Homo sapiens: one gene and its partner. Each later gene encodes a partner of the first gene's protein in a complex. Each region holds a gene or a part of one and is shown on either strand. Other genes may lie near its edges.

The links. The genes of interacting proteins can lie anywhere in the genome.
Region 2: PARD3 (region 1) and PRKCZ share a complex: the UniProt entries of both Homo sapiens proteins name them as parts of the par polarity complex.

The regions. Positions count from the first base shown.
Region 1 is NC_000010.11:34,378,284-34,385,322, reverse strand, and holds part of PARD3 (partitioning defective 3 homolog), read left to right. Parts: intron 1-1,068; coding exon 1,069-1,194; intron 1,195-2,400; coding exon 2,401-2,783; intron 2,784-7,039. UniProt on the Homo sapiens protein: Adapter protein involved in asymmetrical cell division and cell polarization processes. Seems to play a central role in the formation of epithelial tight junctions. Targets the phosphatase PTEN to cell junctions.
Region 2 is NC_000001.11:2,165,378-2,172,416, forward strand, and holds part of PRKCZ (protein kinase C zeta type), read left to right. Parts: intron 1-2,913; coding exon of another isoform or gene 2,914-3,190; exon of another isoform or gene 3,191-4,073; intron 4,074-4,116; coding exon of another isoform or gene 4,117-4,140; coding exon 4,141-4,227; intron 4,228-6,677; coding exon 6,678-6,813; intron 6,814-6,923; coding exon 6,924-7,011; intron 7,012-7,039. UniProt on the Homo sapiens protein: Calcium- and diacylglycerol-independent serine/threonine-protein kinase that functions in phosphatidylinositol 3-kinase (PI3K) pathway and mitogen-activated protein (MAP) kinase cascade, and is involved in NF-kappa-B activation, mitogenic signaling, cell proliferation, cell polarity, inflammatory response and maintenance of long-term potentiation (LTP).

The DNA.
Region 1 (7,039 bases):
CTCTACTAAAAATACAAAAAAATTAGCTGGGCATGGTGGCGCATGCCTGTGATCCCAGCTACTCAGGAGGCTGAGGCAGGAGAATCGCTTGAACCCAGGTGGTGGAGGTTGCAATGAACCAAGATCATGCTATTGCACTACAGCCTGGACGACAAGAACGAAACTCCATCTCAAAAAAGAATAAAATAAGACTAAAAAAATAAAAATAACAGCAATCAGAGCTAGGTTAAGACCCCTGTTGCTTATACTGTGATTTAAAGAAGTATTTCTTATTTGTCCCAGTCTGTATAGAATGTCCTGTCAGTTATGAAGTTAGTGTTCTAGAGCAAGTAGGGGGTCTCTCAAAGGTCATTCACACTTTTCTTTCAACCTGAGTGAGTACATATGTGGAAGAGATGAATGGTGATTGGCATTATTTGAACCTCTCACTGACGTTTTTCTGTTGGGTCATTTGTTTTTCCAAATGGGAATATTGACAATAAATGACTTACTTTTGGGAGACCTGACAGGTTTTGAAATTCACAATACTAAGCACTATCAAATTCAAATGCAAAGCATGGAAACTCCTTTATTCCTGAAATCTTTCCTATTATCATTCTCAAACCTGCAGTGCAATGAGGTTAGCTTTTCCTCATTACCTTTACTTTCACAGAAAGATGGGAGTTGCAGTCGTCTTTTAAGCTAGCGTGCCAGCTGGCTTAAAACAGAAAATTGCCCAAGCCATTCAAAAATACATGCTTATCCATCCTCCACACTGCAATACCCACTCAACCATTAGGCGGGCTCTGTTTGGGGCATTTGTAAACAGAGAGAGTGTTATAGCTTGTTCTAGAAACATAATACTGACCAGCCAGAAACTGATTTTTTACATTTATGGAAGGGATGCATTTTTACATGTCATTTTAACGTTGTGGTTTTTGTCTGTCATTTAAAAATGTATGAATAGTCATTTTAACATGCTCCTTTGTAAGGACATCTTTGTAAATATAATAACAGCATTAAAGTGGTAAGGCAGTGTGCATGGTGGAGATATTACATGTGTAATCATTTGCATTCTTAATGTTCCAGAACCCTGGGGTTATTAGTAAAACGATTGGAGAAAGGTGGTAAAGCTGAACATGAAAATCTTTTTCGTGAGAATGATTGCATTGTCAGGATTAATGATGGCGACCTTCGAAATAGAAGATTTGAACAGTAAGTGTGTGCTCGCTGCACTTCTGTTCTTACTTGCATTAGGCATGACAGAGTGCAGTCAGTTGAAATGCTTCAAACATGTCTGTGATCTCAGTCTGTATACTGGAGAGGAATATTTTCTGCCATTAGCTTTTAAAAATTTAAACATACTCAGTAATTAATACCATTAGACTATATTTCAAAATGTCCTCTGATGGATATAGCTCTTCTTAAGTATTATGGCCCCCATTTCAACTTTACAATTTTGCTGGTTCCTCTCCTTTTGGAAAATTGACAGTGTGCCCATTTTTATCATACTTTAACTCACCCGTCCACCTTTGCTGCACACAGTTTCTCTAGATACAAACAAGCAGATAAAGCTGTTTGTATCTGCTTGAGGTTGTATTCAGATACACTTTATCTTGGGTTGTATTCAGATACAATATTGGGTTGTATTCAGATACACTTTATCTTGATTCAGGCCCTTAGTCAATGAAAAACATAACAGTTGGCCAGTTCTTATAAAACAAGGCAGGAGCAAACAGAACTCTTAAGAACTTGAGGTCCTGACCAGGGAACCAGCATGAGAAAGAGCTGCTTCCCAGGCTGGTTGTATGGGTGCACTGTGACCCACAGCTGTCAACATTTTGAATTATTGAGCCTGGATTGCTGTTCTTGAGATTTTTACATATACCAACTTAATAAATAATTAATAGTTACTTTCTATAGTCTTCTAAGTGTGTGTGTGTGTGTGTGTGTATTTTAAAAATTTTAAATACACATCTAACCCAATCCAATATTCTAAATATAATTATAAAGCTCTGTCTTTCTTTGAAAACTTAAATTGAAGTATTTTGTAATGTCTACAAGTTGTATTAGACAATGTTGTAGAGAGAATGTTCCATTTGGTTTCTATTATTGAAATTATAATACTTGTTATACTTAAAACATGTTTAATGATTTACAGTTGAGAGGACAGAATTTTATCTGTAGTTGTAGATAATTTTTCTATTTTTATTGAGAGAATGAGAAATTTATATTTGAAGAAACAGCTATTGATAGATCAGAGCTGCAAACTTGATTGATAAATGGGTTATTAGAATTTTGCTTTTCAATTTCAACAGCCTGTCAGTTCTTATTGCTTAATTAGTAAACTTAATTAAGCTCATAATATCTTCTAGTCTGCCAGTCTTAATTTGCTAATTTTCTATTCTTTCTCAAACCCAGAGCACAACATATGTTTCGCCAAGCCATGCGTACACCCATCATTTGGTTCCATGTGGTTCCTGCAGCAAATAAAGAGCAGTATGAACAACTATCCCAAAGTGAGAAGAACAATTACTATTCAAGCCGTTTTAGCCCTGACAGCCAGTATATTGACAACAGGAGTGTGAACAGTGCAGGGCTTCACACGGTGCAGAGAGCACCCCGACTGAACCACCCGCCTGAGCAGATAGACTCTCACTCAAGACTACCTCATAGCGCACACCCCTCGGGAAAACCACCATCCGCTCCAGCCTCGGCACCTCAGAATGTATTTAGTACGACTGTAAGCAGTGGTTATAACACCAAAAAAATAGGCAAGAGGCTTAATATCCAGCTTAAGAAAGGTACGACCTATCCTGTTTTTGTTTTGTGGAATTTCTTTTCTTAGCAGCAACACACAAGGGTAGAAATGGAATTTATTTTAAAAGTCAACCTACTAACCCAAAGCACCCTGAGTCTTATCTAATTATTTTGTGAAAGAACTGATAGATTTTTTAAAGTTACTTACCTTTTAACATATTTCAAATTGTATTTCTTATATGTCTCAGGTTTATTTTGCTCTGTAGAAATTAAAATGTAAAAGTGCAGAGAATAAGACTATGTCTATGAGAAGAAGATAGCAGTTACTGTAGTAAAATTTTTGATTGTGAAAGAAAATGGCTTCAGGACATTAATATCAAATGCAGAACAATAGTAAGGATTTGACCATTTTGACTGCCCCATTTGCTGTATAAGTCCAGCCCTCAAGGAGGACTTTAGAGGTAGTGCACGTCAATCTCAGTATTTGATGTGGGGAGGGACCAATTTGTTTGAGGCTGCCAGGAGTTTATAGTAGGTTGCTGAGAAGCCAGGCCATTGACTCTTGTCTTTTGTTTTCTTGTATTATTGCATTACTTCCCTTTCTTTTTTTTCTTTTCTTTTCCTCTCTTTTCTTTTTCTTTCTTTTTTTTTTTTTTTTTTTTTTTTTTTTTGAGACAGGGCCTTTCTTTGTTGCCCAGGCTACAGTGCAGTGGTGCAGTCATAGCTCACCGTAGCCCGCAACACCCCATGTCAGCCTTCCAAGTGCTGTGACTAGAGGCACATGCCGCCATGCCCATCTCATTTACAAATTTTTTGTTGTGTTGGAGTCTTGCCATGTTGCCCAGGTTGATCTGGAACTCCTGGCCTCAAGTAGTCCTTCTACCTCGGCTTCCCAAAGTGCTGGGATTATGGAAGTGAGCCACCATGTCCAGGCCTGCTTCTCTTTCTTATGGTGATGTGGAAGTCATGATGTCGATTGCCGATTCTTCATACATCTTCCATCCATTATGTATTTTAGTACCCTTCCTGTATACAGTGGATCTCTGTATAGAGAGCATGTTCTTGCAGTTTGCCTCCTTCAAAGTTGAGTGCAAACTATTGGACTTGACTTTATGATTTTCACCCAATGTTTCGTCCAGGCACCAAGATACACTTTTACTGTTCCTGATCCATTTTAGCTGAGCATTTTGATATATTTTTAAATCATGTCTTTCAAAATGGTATTATTATAAAGAATATTTTTTTTTATAGGCTCAACCATCAACTCTTATAGTTGGATGGAAATGATTCCAAGAGAGGTTCATTATTTCCTCAGGTCATGTGGCTGTTGGCCACAGATTCTTACTAGTATGTTTTCCATATCCGGATATTCAGACCATTCTTCTTTACATTTGGGGTAGCATTTACAAGGTTGTAAACTCTGAGACTGCTGTTTCCTTTCTAACTCATATTCTTTCAGTGAACTTTATGTGAACCTCAAGTTTCTTATTTCTGGTTACTGGTTTTTAAGCTCTAAATACTTGGTTGACATGATCAGGAGTTGACAGCTTGCCTCGTTGCAAACACAGAGTCATATCAACAGAAACCCCTTTAGCTCTGTCAATTCCTAAATGAGAGAAATATCACATCCTCTTTCCTCCTTTTGCTCTACTTAAATGACAGGCCCTTGTTTTTAACCAAAAACATATCAAGAACTACAAATAGAATCGTATAAAAAATAAAATTCTGCTTGATATCTCTAAACAAAGGTACAGTATTTTGCTTCACCATTGTCATAAAGATACTGGTTCATAAATATCTTTTCCTTTTTACACTGATACAGCAATATTCATTTAGTTAATTATGGTTTTTCAAAAATTAGGATATTTGACAAATCATGATATAACATGAACTTTTTAAATGAGGTGATTTGCCATTAAAAGTACCATTGTTTTGCTAATGAAAGAATGAGAAATACAAAGGAAATCTGAAGTGAGAAGATAAAGGTAAAGTATTAAACAGAATACAGATTCTCCAAAAAAAGGAAAATAATGAGTATATCTAATTTTTATGTTATAGTAAGTCTGAAGTGATAAATAAATCAAATTGATACATTTTACTTACAAAACTGGTACCATTGTTTTGAATACAGATATTATTTTAATAGCATTTAATGAAAAATATGATTGCATTTACACAAGCTAATTTAGAAAGACTATGCTTAATCACTGAAAGGAGAAACAATGGTTTTAAGTGTTTTTCAGACCTTGAGTAATCTTAATGATATAGAGTCCCATAGATCTATCTTGATTTTAATTTACCAACTGTGAGAATGTATGACAAAAAGCACATGCTGCTTGTGCATGCTGCCAATACTTACAAATATTTTATATAAAAATTATGTTTACTATAAATGTGGGGAAGAATGCTGATTATCTTTGATTAGGACTAAATGCATATATTTTAATAATAATGAATGTAGGAGAATTGAACAGGCTTTCCTTGTAGCTAGCAGATTTTTTTCTTACAAGTTATTACATTTATTAGTGAAGTACATTAAAAACATAGGGTGTGTCAGTGTTAAACTTCAGATTCAGTTCAAAGTGAGCTAATGTGCTTTGAGTGGCAGCAGTTCTTCAAAAACTGGAATCAACTCTTAGTACAAAAAAAGATGTCAGTATAATTATTCTTTGGCCTAATTTTGGAGCTATGTTATATAACATGACAACAGAATAGCCTCAGTGTACTTGCTTCCATAATTATGATTTCTTAATATTTATTGCCATTTTGGTATTCTCAAATACCCAGCTCTTTTGTAGAAATTAGCTTTTTAATAAAGTCAGAGGAGAAGGTCAGTAATCTGTTTCAGTCAGTGCAGAATGTTTTGTTGGCTTTGTTAAATGAAAATTGATATCTACTTATCTTTCCTTGAAAGGTCATTGCCTGAACTTTTAGCTTACAGATTTAGGGGTTGTTGCTGATATTTTAATAGTATTGAGGTTCCTACAACAGTCAGCATTCATAGTTCAAAAAAGTTAGTATTGCAAAAGGAGAGTAATTAAGAATTCTTTCTTAATAAATGTTATTGCAAGTCATTAGAGTTTCATGAAAGCAGAGACATATGGAAAAATCTCCCCAGAGCAATAACAAACATTTCATATAGACAGTATGCCATTCAGGTGTTCAGCATGGAAGACATCAGAAATATTAATAGTCCAAGCACCCTAAAGTGACTTCAGACTAAAGTAAATGAATGCTTTGTTTGATGTTGAGAATAACTATGGTAGGTTTTGCTACAGGAATAACTATGGAGTGTTTTCTTTATTTCTCCTTTAATGTTTCTTTAATCTACATTTTTATTCACCCTTTTTTGTTCACTTATATTTTATACTTTTCATTACAGTTTTATACTGAGTGATGTATCAGATTAATGTGCTCTTTTCTAGATTTTTCACCTTTACAGATCTCTTTATTCTTCCCATAATGAGCAAGCATTTGCCTTAACAATATTTTAACTGAAATGGAAACTAATATCTTAAGAAGTAACTTTTTAAAAAAGCTTAGGTAGAAATCATTATTGTAAAAATGTTGTGATTCATTACAAATGTATCATTATCTCCCCAGTTTTTCCTGGGCACGTGTTGGCTTCTTGCGTCTTGATTCTAGTGACATATAAACACTTTTCTGCTTTGTATTGAGCATGTAAGACTGTCTGTCAAGAAAGCTGCCAAAGAAATGAGAATTTAAATTCTGTGAATCATCAGAGTAATTTATAAATGCATCATTAATTTAGTACCTTTAAGCATAATATGATCCCCAGATTTGGTAGCCATGATCTGAGATGGAGTCTTCACTGAGTAATTTGCCTTGTTTGGGAGTGGGGGGTGGTGAAGGAAATATACATGGTAAGATTTAGGTGAATTAGAAGTGAACTAGGCAAAGATAATTTGGTTTATGGTTTATCCTCTTAGTAAACTGCTTTGAATAATTATGATTTTGGGAGGTTCCATTACCTCTATCTAGAGATACCTCTCATTTCACTGTTCTTTTCCATCTCCCTGGACATTTTTGTTTCCCTTGCTCATACCTCCTACCCTTAAAATTTGGATGTCATTATTGCACAATAATACTTGAGTTTTGAGGTACTGTGGGTCTTAACAGAAGTTTTTTTCTTTCTTCATGTAGTGAATTTCCTATTCAAAGATTTACATTGATTTAAAAACTTTTAGCAGTCATATTTACATATTAACTTTCATCTGTCTTTGAGAAGATTGCTGTTTCTTCTTAGATTAATAACTGTTGATATGTAAACCATTTAAAC
Region 2 (7,039 bases), on another chromosome or scaffold:
GACAAGCCAGGAGCTGTGTGAGCCGGAGAACGTCCCCTAACCTGTCTGTGCCTCGGCTTCCCCATCTGTAAAATGGCGAGAGCTGAACTTACTTCCTGGTGATGGGGTCAAGTGCGTTAACACAGAGGGACTTGGAGACTGACGCTTACTGAGGGCCACACCAGCGGTCAGCAAAGGTTGTCTTAAAGGGTCAGGCAGTAAATATTTCCACCTTTGTGGGCCATGCGGCCTCTGTGGCAACTATGCGTTCTAAAACAGAAGCAGCCTTAGACACTGCGTGAAGGGACGCGTGTGGCCGTGTTCCACCAGAACTTTCTGTACACACATGGTGGTGGCCCGCCCGGACCCATCTGGTTAATTCTTGACTCTCAGGGCAGCGTCTCCTGTGCCTCCAGGAGAGGGCTGTGGTTCCTCCCTCTGAGCCGGGCACCTTGCATTCCTGGAAGGGGTGGGGGGAGTGGCGAGGAGGGGGCGGCACCAAGGACAGGGCCCACCTCCTAGGAGGTTTTGTGAGCTTCCCTCAGCCCCCGGCCGCCCCCTAGGAGGTTTCGTGAGCTTCCAGCATCCCCCTGCGGCCACTGTCCCTCCATTTCCCATGTCTGTTGGATGGTGCCGGTTCCAGGGCAGGGTCAGGGACTGGATCCGGCTGCGGTCTGCGTCTCGCCTGGTTCCTGAGAGCTGCACTTTGTCTTTGGTTGTTGATGAATCCATTTTTGCTGGCGTTCTTCACGTTTGTGTATTTGATTAAGTATCATGGACAGGCATGTGCAGTGGCTCACACCTGTAATCCCAGCCCTTTGGGAGGCTGAGGCCGGAGGATCACTTGAGGCCAGGGGTTCAAGACCAGCCTGGGAAATATCTCGAGACCCTTTCTCTACAAAAAATTTAAAAATTAGCTGGCGGTGGTGGTGCAAGCATGTGGTCCCAGCTCCTCGGGAGGCTGAAGCCGGAGGATTGCCTGAGCCTGGGAGGTCGAGGCTGCAGTGAGCCATGATCACACCACTGCACTCCAGCCTGAGTGACAGAGTGAGATCTTGTCTCAGAAAAACAGCCCCGAGGGCACGTGTCTCATGACTCCCGCCTCCCGCCTCCCATCTGGGCTCTGCTTGCTCCTCTCCCCTTGCAAACATGAGAGGAGCGTTAATGCCAGGACAGGGAGCAGGGAGGGGCATCCCCAGCGCCTCCAGGCCACAACATGGCGAGTGTGGCTACCAGGACACGGAGGGGCAGCCTCAGCCCCCTCCCCCAGGCCACGACATGGCGAGTGTGGCTACCAGGACACGGAGGGGCAGCCTCAGCCCCCCCCAGGCCACGACATGGCGAGTGTGGCTACCAGGACATGGAGGGGCACCTTCAGCCCCCCACCCCCACCCCCAGGCTGTGCTTCCCAGCATCCCTTGGGGTCAGGACTGTGTGTGTCACTGAGGGGCTACGGGTGAAGCCACACACGCCCCTGGCCTGGCCTTGCGCCCCTGCCTGAGAGCCTCTATGCAGGACAGCGCCTGTGGGGCACCCAAGTGGGCCGAGCCCATGTGGATTACAGGTGCACACCACCAGCGTGAGGAGAGGAGTGGGCTCGGAGCATGCTCAGCCATGGTCCCAGGCATCTTGTCAGCAGCCAGCTCAGCTTGTGTCACGCAGAGTCGCCTTAGAGTGAATTGACACCAGATTGTCCTGGTGGGTTTTTGCTCTGAAGAAATGTCAAAAGTAGCATTAAGGTTTTTCTGTAGACAAAAAAACCCCACCATCATTGCAGCTTGAGCAGTTGCAAATTAAATAAATTCCTTCCTCAGCAAGCTGCCTGGGTCCTAGGCCTTGGGCAGAGAGAACTGGCTTTCAGCACAGTTCCCGTGATTGGCTTTTCTCTGGAGAAGAAGGGGAAGCGGCCTCCGCCTCTACCTCTCTAAGTGTTTAAATGTCCCCCAAATTCTCTCAGCCTCCTGAGGCATTGTATTGATGCTTTTCTCTAGAATTCATGTATTTCTTTATTTTCTCTGGAAATGGCATTGGCTTTGTCCCCGTCCTATGGGCCGTGATAGCTTAAAGTTAGGATGAACCCACAGAGGCCGTGGAGGCCCTTCCCAGGCGCCGCAGCAGCACTGTTGGGGTGAACGTGGCTCCTCTCGGGGGGACAGGTGGAAGGGACCAGCACCCATTGGGGCGTGTAACTCCTGGTGGCAAAAAATGTGCGGTGAAGTCACCCTAAGGGTTTTTGTGGTTTTTTGTATTTTTATTTTATTCTTTGAGACAGAGTCTTGCTCTGTCGCCCAGGCTGGAGTGCAGTGGCGCAATCTCAGCTCACTGCAGCCTGTGCCTCCTGGGTTCAGGCGATTCTCCTGCCCTCAGCCTCCCGAGTAGCTGAGATTACAGGTGCACACCACCAGCCCTGGGTCATTTTTGTATCTTTAGTAGAGATGAGGTTTCACCATGTTGGCCAGGATGGTCTCGAACTCCTGACCTCAGGTGATCTGCTTGCCTTGGCCTCCCAGAATGCTGGGATTACAGGCCTCGTGAGCCACCACGCCCAGGCACTCTAAGGGTTTTGAATAAATTCTTTCTTAACGTTTTCTGACCGACTCTTAGGTCGTGGGTGTCCTCCAGGGGTTGGAGGCCTTCATGGAGCTTCGTTCCGTGGGGTTGACGTTACTGAACGAGTCCCTCCACGGGTGCACTGAGGACGTTCCTGCACATCGAGGGCACCCTCAGAGCTGCTCTTTCTGTCATTGCTATTTTGTTTATACCGGGGATTGGCAAACTTTTTCTTGAAGGGCCCAAGAGTAGACATTTTTGGCTTTGCGGCCACAGGGTCTCTGTTAGCAACTCCCTCTGCCACGGTGGCTGGAAAGCAGACATAGAAAATAGATGCACCAGTGAGCATAGCCTCGTTCCAATAAAACTTTATTTACAAAACAGGGAGCAGTGGACCAGCGAGTCCCCAAGGACAAGGGCCAGGTTACCAGAGAATTTCCAGGCACATCCGTTGGAGGCAGGGGAGACAACAAAAGCCGAGGAACGAGCCTTCCCCAGCCGCTCCCCAAAGGCACGGCTTATTCTTCAGGGTGCCCGACTGGCCACGTGGACGTCTCTCCAGCTCCTCACTTGGGGCCCAGGGCTCTTTCGATTTTTAGGAGTTTGTTTCCAATCAGAAACTTCACAGATGATTTGCAGCCAGTTCACCTGCCCTGTGTAAACTGGCCTCTGTCCTCTCTGGCTTAATTCTGGGAGCTTGTGGAGGGCAGGAGCAGGGACAGGTGCCTTGAGGCGTAACAGTGGCGGTGGTGTGGGAGCTTGCGTGGGATCGAAGGAAACGGGCAGAGTCACCACACGCTTCCCTCCTTCACTCCCCGCTCCACGAGGGGCAGCCAGGAGCAGCCACCAGTCGGAAGCAAATAAACAATTCAGGTGCCAGAGGAGCCGCTGACCTAAAAAAACCCGCCACAGGGTATTTCTGGGAGATTGTATGAGAATTTAATTTTGAAAATTGAGTCTCATGAAATGTAGGAAAAGATCTTATTAGGAAGAGAAACCATGTGGCCCAGTCCCTGAGACGGGAAGGGCCTGCGTGGTCCTGATGACATCTGCGGATCTTTTAAAATCATACGATCATGTCTGCGAAACCGGGATGCCACTTCCCACCTGGCTTCTCCCTGACCCCAGCTTGTTCCCTTGGAGGGCCGGTGGACTCCTCAGCCTTGCAGCAATGAAATCAGGCCTTGAGGCCACCCCACCCGTGACCTGCGGTGCTGTCCCCATGCAAGAAACTGCCTCGCTCCAGCCCCCAGCAGATCCTGTCCCAGCCCCCAGCCCTGGTCCAAGCCACCTCCACTCCCACCTGGTGACGGGCCACCTCCTTCATTCCGGGGCCCACCCACACTTCCCAAGTCCACACACAGTGGCCAAGAGTGAAGGCCGGCGAGGCCCCCGCATGACTCCCTCACCTGCACCCTTCACGAGCGGCCCCGCAGCCCGTCCCCACCAGCCCCTCTCTGCTGCCAGGGTGCTCCTGCTGCTCTTTGCTCTTTGCAAGACTGAACCTGCGGGAGGGTTCGGGCCCACGAAGGCCGCTTCTGTGGGGCTTCTGTCTAAGGAGGCCGCCGTCTGCCGAGGTGACTGCAGCCTCCGGCGCCTCTCTCCCTGCAGGTTGTTCCTGGTCATTGAGTACGTCAACGGCGGGGACCTGATGTTCCACATGCAGAGGCAGAGGAAGCTCCCTGAGGAGCACGCCAGGTGGGTGCGCGTGGACGGGGCCGGGTGGGTGCGCCCGGAGTTGGGGATGGGTGGGTGCGTGCGGTGTTGGGGGGCTGGGTGGGTGCGCACAGAGGGATGACGGGTGGGTGCGCGCGGAGTTGGGGGGCCGGGTGGGTGTGCGCAGAGGGGAGGTGGCTGGGTGGGGTGTGCACGGAGGGGGTATGACGGGGGCGGGGGGGGCGGGGTGCACGTGGAGGGGGCCGGGGACCTTCTCCAGGGGTCAGCAGGGAGCTCAAGGGAGGGAAGTCCAGGTAGGATGGCAGAGGGCATCATGTCCCCCACAGTGTGACGTCCCCTGCATTGTGACACATTCCATATTTGCTCCAGAGTCACAACATTTGGGAGGTCTCCTGAGTTATGGTGCCTCAGACCAGTCCCCCAGGCCCCACCCCTGAAGCAGCACCATGCCTCATCCGAGAGAAGTGAGAGTCTCCTGGGATTGTGCTGTCTTCATGGTGGCTCTGCCCTGGTTCTGCTCTTCACCCTGTTAGTGGCACAGCATGGCCAGCATTTCCTCAGCGTTAGGAGCAGAACGAGAGTGGTCTGTTTCTAGAGTGACCTGAGAGACTCCTTCCTGCCCTTCCCTTTCATCTCTGATATCTTCGGGCCTCCCCTGGCAGCCGAGGGGCCTCCAGCATGGTTCAGGAGCCTCCCCCGGCAGCCGCGGGACCTCCAGGACCGTTTGGGGGCTTATTTCAGCTCCCTGGACCTTTCCTGTCTTTTGTAGTTTCTCCTTTTCCTCATTTCCTTACTTAAGAACGTTGCATGCAGTTTTGTGAGTCACCTTAGATTGTTTCTGGCAATAGGACAGTAGGCAATAAATCTAGAACAGTACACTTCCCACAACGCTGTTTTTAAAAACTGTGGCAACACACAACATAAAAGGTAGCATTTTGGGGCATGGAATTCAGTGGCGTTGAATGCACCCCATGCTTTGCAGCCACTGCTGGCCCCCGTCTCATCTCCAGAGCACGCCCCTCTTCCCTGCTGAAGCTTGGCCCATCAGACACTCCCTCCCTGTCCCCCGCCCCAGCCTCACATCCTCACCCCAGACGGGCACGTCCCACTTTCTGTCCCTCTGATTCGAGGACTCTAGGGACCTCATCGGAGTGGAATCACAGTGTTGGTCCTTCGGTGGCTCATTTTCCTGAGCATAGCGTCCTCAAGATTCATCCGTGCTGTGGCCTGTCTCAGAATTGCCTTCCTTTTTCAGGCTGGATAATGCCCCGTTGGATGGAGGGGCCACACTTTGCTTATCCGTCCATCCCTCGGGGGGCACTTGAGTGGCATCCACATGTTGGCCATGGTGAACAGTGCTGCTGTGAACATGGGTGTGAAGTAATCTCTTGAACACCCTGCTTCCGGTTCTTTGGGGTATACACCCAGAAACTGAATTGCTAACCACATAAGAATTCCATATTTAGGCCGGGCGTGGTGGCTCACGCCTGTAATCCCAGCACTTTGAGAGGCCAAGGCGGGCGGATCACGAGGTCAGGAGATCGAGACCATCCTGGCTAACACGGTGAAATAACACAGTGAAACCCTGTCTCTACTAAAAATACAAAAAATTATCCAGGTGTGGTGGCGGGCGCCTGTAGTCCTAGCTACTCGGGAGGCTGAGGCAGGAGAATGGCGTGAACCTGTGGGCAGAGCTTACAGTGAGCCAAGATCGCGCCATTGCACTCCAGCCTGGGTGACAGAGTGAAACTCTGTCTCAAAAAAAAAAAAAAAAAGGTCATATTTAATTTTTTTTTTTTTTTGATGGAGTCTCGCTCTGTCACCCAGGCTGGAATGCAGTGGTGGGATCTCAGCTCACTGCAGCCTCTGCCTCCCAGGTTCAAGTGATTCTCCTGCCTCAGCCCCCAGAGTAGCTGGGACTACAGGTGTGCGCCACCATACCCGGCTAATTTTTTTGTATTTTTAGTAGAGACGGAGTTTCGCCATGTTGCCCAGGCTGGTCTTGAATTCCTGACCTCAGGTGATCTGCCTGCCTCGACCTCCCGAAGTGCTGGGATTACAGGTGTGAGCCACCAAGCCTGGCACCGTGTTTAATTTTCGAGGACCTGCCGGACTGTCTTCCGCAGCAGCGGCGCTGTTCTGCACTCCTACCACAACGTGCCATGGCTCCGGTCTTTCCCGCATGGAAGCTGTCGTGTTATTTGCCCGCTCCTCCCCTTGTGGAGGCTGCCACATCGTTCTCTGTGTCTTTGACAGCAGGCCATCCTAAGGCGCATGGGGTGGTGTCCTGGAGCTTTCATTGGCATTTCCCTCCCTGGCCCTGTGCACTGCACTTTCAAATCCTGGGCCTGGTCATTGAGAGGATGCCGGGCCCGTGGTGGGGCAAACGGGAGTGTGTGGCCCCCAGGCTGGAGCTGTTGGCGCAGCCTCTGGCACAGGCACTGCCCCCATGACGGCATCCCCACCCCCAGGTTCTACGCGGCCGAGATCTGCATCGCCCTCAACTTCCTGCACGAGAGGGGGATCATCTACAGGGACCTGAAGCTGGACAACGTCCTCCTGGATGCGGACGGGCACATCAAGCTCACAGACTACGGCATGTGCAAGGTGCGTGCCTTGGACCGCCTCCCCTGACCATCCCGCATGTGCGTCTCGGGGCGCCTGTCCCGCGGGGTAGTGTCTACAAGAACCCTCTCCCAGTAACTTTGCCCCCACAGGAAGGCCTGGGCCCTGGTGACACAACGAGCACTTTCTGCGGAACCCCGAATTACATCGCCCCCGAAATCCTGCGGGGAGAGGAGTACGGTGAGTGCCGCTGCCCTGGCCCCTCTCG